Regions from separate parts of the Homo sapiens genome. Here region 2 is linked to region 1. The links come from fine-mapping of genetic effects on gene expression. A gene starts in region 1. The other region holds a variant in brackets. All regions are shown on one strand. Distances are from middle to middle. Region 1 holds the start of PCTP (phosphatidylcholine transfer protein). Region 2 holds the start of LOC102724732 (a long non-coding RNA gene).

What was found. PIP is the estimated chance that this variant, and not a neighbour inherited with it, causes the effect. A credible set is the group of variants that fine-mapping cannot tell apart.
Region 2: its variant is the best candidate, but not a certain one, in a credible set for the expression of PCTP in whole blood (TOPMed, PIP 0.88).

What each region holds. Positions count from the first base shown.
Region 1 is chr17:55,749,296-55,752,208 of GRCh38, reverse strand. PCTP (phosphatidylcholine transfer protein) reads right to left here and starts at 1,158. Exons shown (of 6, transcript NM_021213.4): 1 at 965-1,158. The coding sequence starts at 1,105. RefSeq lists a silencer at 1,021-1,360.
Region 2 is chr17:55,587,692-55,590,604 of GRCh38, reverse strand. LOC102724732 (a long non-coding RNA gene) reads left to right here and starts at 802. Exons shown (of 3, transcript XR_429997.4): 1 at 802-998. The variant C/T (reference allele first, on the strand shown) is at 1,618.

The DNA.
Region 1 (2,913 bases):
AAAATGCAAGTGCCTAAAAAGGCAACCACATGTTTGACATTCACAAGATCATGAACCCTCCAATCCCACCTCTGCTATTCACTTATCTGGGCCATTTCAGGAGTGACTTCACCCTTGAGGCCTGTTGCTTTCACCTATGAAACCTGGGGTTTAACCAGGTGAGCATGAGGTATCCTCCTAACTCTAACACTATAATATCCTGGTCCTGTATTAGGAAACTTCAGTTTCACCCACATTACCTGCAGGCGACTTTTAACCTACTTGCCATGCTGCGACTATTACACAAAGCAACTGATGACAAGCCTTGGATGACAGGCCTCAGGGGCAATGCCTTCCACCTGGATGGCTACCTGATTCCAAAGACTTCAACAACCAATCCCATTCCTCCTACATCTTTACTCCTGCCTGAAGATTCGGACTCAACTTATTAAGAGCAACTTGGAAGGAAGGGGCAACAACCAAAAGAAACGAGTCACTAAAACAGTAGGGCCCTTCTCGGCAACCCCTGACACCACCCTGCACATCCAGTCCTTGAAAAGTTCTGTTTCTTTTCCTCCTATATCCAAGCCCTAAGATACCGCCCCTCCCCCACCCCAGCCCCCATATGCCACTGACACGCATTGGAGAGTGAGGATCAACGTCCCTTGCAGACGTGTGCACGGGCCTAGGAACCAGCTGACCCACGTTTCAACTGTCATTAACTTCTAACTACATGCCCCGTCGGGCCTGACCTGAGGCTGAACTCCTGTGACCTTCCAACTCCCCTGGATCTGCACGGCAGTCACTTGGAGGCACCGCCCCTGCGCTAGCTCCAGAGCTTGAGACAGGGTCCGGGCGGAGCTCCTTCCTGAGCCGGAGAAGACGCGCCCCTGTCCCTTCCGCGACTGCCGCCCCGCACTCCCTGCGGGGAGGTCGACCCCGGCGCATTCTAGGCCCCGCGGTCCTCCAGCGGGTTGGCCGCTACCTTGTCCAGCAGCCGGTAGATGCTGATGCCCGAGGTCTCCACTAGGAGCTGCCAGTCGGCCCCGGCCAGAGCGGGCTGCTGGAGCTCGGCGCAGGCCTCCCAGAACTGCTCCTCCGAGAAGCTTCCGGCGGCCAGCTCCATCCTTCCGCAGTCCGGGCTCCTCCGCCTGGAGGGCAGGCCGCGGACACCCTTAGTGTGGGCCTGGGGGCGGGGTGACCGGGCTGCCCCGGCTGCCCCGGCTGCCCCAGCGTCATTGGCAGGAAACTGAGGAGAAGGCGGGGCCTAGACTGGAGGAGCGGCCTGAGGGTGGGGCCCTGGAGGGGCGGGCCTAGAAAAGCGGGCGGGGCTGAGCAAGGAGTGAGGAGGATAGACAAGAAGTAAAAGGAGAAAAATTGGACTTGATGTGGGGAAGGAAGGAAGAGCTGGAGAAGTAAGGAGGCTTCCAGAGGGAAGGGAAAAAGGAAGGGAGACAGTGATGTCACCTCAAAAACAGCTCCTCAGTAGCCTATCCCATACTCCCTGCTACTCCCATAACCTACAGACCTGTTTGAGTGTCTCTCATTTACCTTTCTGAATAAAGTAGAGAAAGTCTCTTTGGTAGACATGAGAGGAGAGGTGGGCAGAGTAGAAATGCTGGAAAAATCCTAAGGGGTCAAATGCCAGAAGTGTATTTCAATATAATTTCTCTTCTTTCTGCTATACATTGTAAAACATTATTCTGAGACGAGGTCCATTGGATTCCCCAGAAGACTCTAGGGGTTCATAACACCAAAACAGTTTAGAAACCTAATCCATAATGGATCTACAAGGTTGTTGCCACCCTTGAGGGTAGAAACTGATCTGAAAGGTGTCGTACTATCCACCTAGGATTTCTGCAACTTGCATAATTTAGCTCACTGTGCAACTCAAACATCTTCTTGTTCCTTTGAAGTCCCTTGAGTAATACTGTATTTCCCACCAGCAGACTGTACTACCTGACTTTGAATAAAGTAGGTCGTTTGAACATCAAAACGATGTAACAGCCACGTGAGTGCCAATAAACTCTGGAAACTCATGTTTCCTAATCTGTAAAATGGGTCAAGAATTGTGCTACCAGTTACAGCTGAGGAGGTGGTTGGACAAGGAATAATTTTCCACAGTGCCCGTCCAAGTAAATGTTCAATAACAATTTCCACTTGTTTTGCATTACTATATTGAAATGCTTTTCTTTCCTTACTTGAAAGAAAGTTGATGGCAAAGTCTTAATTTATGTGATTTTCCAATCAGGCAAATGATCACATTTGGCAGCTTGCTTAGTTAGACACAGCAGAGATAAATAATTGCTTTCCTCAAGTCAGTCCTGGTTCTGTTTGGCTTTATAGGTGTGGAAAGAGGGATGTGAAATTTTCCTAGACTAAATGCACAAAAGTTTAGGCTAGACATACTTTCCCACTGTTTTATAACTCCTTGTAAATTTTCTATGTATTGTAAATCCATATTTTATTTAAATGGAAATTCATTGCTTGAAAAACCAATTGTGTAAAAACTATTGGCTATGAAGTATTTTCAAGTATCTTCAAGGAATCCATTATAAAGGTTTGATTTGATAAAGCTTTATTACTATATGGCAATAGACTAATGGAGACAAGCATAAGAACACAAACGACATCATGCAAGATATAAAGCACGCACTTCAAATTGTATTTATTGTATGTGTTTAAAAGTGTGTTGCCTAATAAACTCAGGAGAAAAATAAATATATCCTTGAATATGCTGAGATTTACACTCAGTTATTTTATTACAGTTAATGAAAGAATAATGTTAGGAAATATTTTATGGTATCTCTAAAGTCTAAAAACAGCTAGGAAAGGGATCCAGGAAGGCCTGTTCTTGAGAAGTTGCCTTAATAGCCTGTTTCCTTTGTGAAAAAAAACTCTCTGAAACAACTTCTGGCAAAATGGCAACTAAAG
Region 2 (2,913 bases), 160 kb after region 1:
GTTAGAAACAGTAATTCAGTAGATCATAATCCCTAAAACATCACTACTAAGTTTTATTATTCTTCCCTATCCACTGTCATTGGAGTGGAATGTTTCTTTTTTTTTTTTTTTTTTTTTTTTTTTTTTGCAAGTGGGAGTTAAATCTCTCATCTGGACCATAGTGTGTTGACTTCGCTCTTCCCTGTACCCATTAAATTAACTAAGCAATAATTTCCTGACTGGGGAAGTAATCGGGATAGCTTCACTTTCCCAGGTTTCCTCCCTCCTTTTTGGTGTGTTAGGTTTGTGTTTTGCTCTTTTCCCTTCTCTCCTCTTGTCCCTCTATCTGATTTGGCTGAGGATTATTTTTACTTTTTCCCATCATTCTTTCAGCTTTATCTACTTGGAAATATCAGTCAACCAAAGTTTAAGTGGATGGAAGTCTTATCCTATGATTTTAAAGCTTTCATAAGCTAAAGTTCTATGTCCAACATTATTACATTTAAAGAAAATAACAAAGAGTTTGAAATTACAAGGGAGAGTGTAATCTTCACATTCCTAGCCACCATAACTCTGGAAAAACACACATCTTTTGTTCCTGATTCAAAATATTAATTTCCTACAGAGCTCCCAGCTTCATAAATTCACAGCTTCCTTGGGAAAATCCCCATAACACTAGAAAGCCACTTTATCCTGTTTCAGTGAACATAGTTGTTAAGGAGGCTTGCATAGAAAAAAAGGAAACCAAAATATTTAAGGACTGGTTTTAGCATTAATTACATAATTTATAAATTATCTTACATAGTTATGAATTCTGAACAATTCTGAAGGGCCTAATCCACTTAGCCCTTAACTCTGCTAACATGCAGGTCTACTTATCTATAAAGAGAGGCAACAATTTGAACATTGCTATGGACATCTGTAGACATCTTTCAGTGGGAAGCTGAAAAATTTTCACTATAGGAAGACATTACCATTTCTGGCAATGGTCAGATCACCAGATTCCAGGGGGAGGTCAGGTAAGTGGACTTTTCTTTTTCTCTCCCTCTTATCCACTCCTTTTTTCTCTATCCCAACTCCACTAATTGAAAATGGTAGTAAGTAGATACCTTGGAGCCTCTAGCCCTCTGACTACAATAAGTCCTGAAATCATCTTTACATCACTAGAAAAGAGATATTTGCCTCCTGGTGGTTTAAAGCAACAGCATCAAGACTTCCTCTGCTTTCTTTGAGTTCTGTACAACTGGAGTCAGATTCCTTGAGGAGGAGGGGAGAGAGGACCATATAATGAGTAGATAGACCAAAGTCAGATCATAGGAAGGCAAGTTGGTGCAAATGCTTCCTCAGCCCTCTCTTCATTTCTTCTGCATTTGGAGATTTTGTTACAACTCGAGTTCCCTTTCTCTCAAATGAAAGCCTAGTGTGGAGCATAGGTTTTTCAAGATACGAGGGCAAAAGCATACTAATTAAACCCAGCTGTTGGCCTCTGCTCTCCCTCCATGAATCTGGCCTTACATCAGAAGTCTTACATTTGGGGAAAGGAGGGCTGGTAACTCCAAGTGCACAGGGGAAGGGAAGTTTGATTTTCATGTAAAAAGCACAGAGGGATTTTTGAAGCCATAATCCTTTGTTTAGCTG[C/T]GTTGTAATAGATAGTATACTTGCTTTGCAGCAAAAGGATTTAGGGCTTTCCAAAGGGTTGAGAGGTCTTGGAACACGTCTCCACTGCAGGCTACAAAATCATGTTGTCAAGAAACTTGAAATAATATAAACAATAATTATAAAATCCACATGCCACTTGGAAAAGGGATGTGGTAAGAAGAAAATGAGATAATATCAGTTAAGTACTTAGGAAGTAACAGGGACCTGTAATAGCAGCAGTAATTGTCCCTATTGTATAAATTTAATGTTTATTTTCCTATGCTGTTCTTCATTAGAGGTAACAAGTCTTGATGTTTTGTTAATACTAACCCTTCCAAGGCCATCAAGACACTGTACATAACTTATGTTACATCATCATCCTCATTTCCTTGGCAATATTCATGAATTCATTCAACAAATATTTACTGAATACCTGTTACATACCAGGCTAAGTACTAAATGCTGGAGGTTCAAAGATGGGCAAGATCTGGTCCTTGCTCTTAAAAGGCTTACAACTGAGTTAGAGAAACAGACACATGAACAACTAACTCAAACATAAAGCAGAGAGAGGTAAACACACCAATAGTGAAGAGGTTAAGGTGAAGATTCTTGCAAAGCAGCGCTGGAGAGTTACAAAGCAAGCAGCCAATTCAAACTAGGAGGGGACAGGGAAGGGAGTTAGAAAAAACTTCCAGGAATAGAGGAAGTTTGCACTACCTTCCTAACTGAATGAGGACTTGGTGTCCACCAAATCAAAGAGAGAGAATTGGGTAAGAGAGTAGCCTAAACAAGGTAGGGAAAGCCACAGGACCATGGGTCACCAAGACGTCTTAGTACAATGGCAAATCATATCTGTGCCTCGAACCAGGGAATGGGAGGAGTTCAGGCAGGAGTGGAGGAGTAGGCTGGAACCAGATCATAAAAGACCTTGTTTGTGCCTTGTCGTACTCCCACCTCTTCGTGGCCAAAGAGAGGCGGCCAGCCAGATACTAAGGAGCAGCTCGAGGCATGAGATCACAAGCACATAAGCACAGAAACCCCATTATACGAGCTTCCAGAGGGGACACCAAACAGTCCAGAGATACTCCAACTCACAAGTCCAGTTCCAAAACTCAGGAACTTGGACTTTTGTTTTTGCTGCAGGGCTGGATTCAGAGAGCACACAATGCCCAGTGTTGAAAGCCCCTTTTTGGAAGGAAGAACAGTTGCACATCTGGGAAAGGTTAGGGTCAAACATATAAATGAGGGGAGCGGAGCACATTACTCTGAGACACTCCGTCTGTGACGTCAATCACT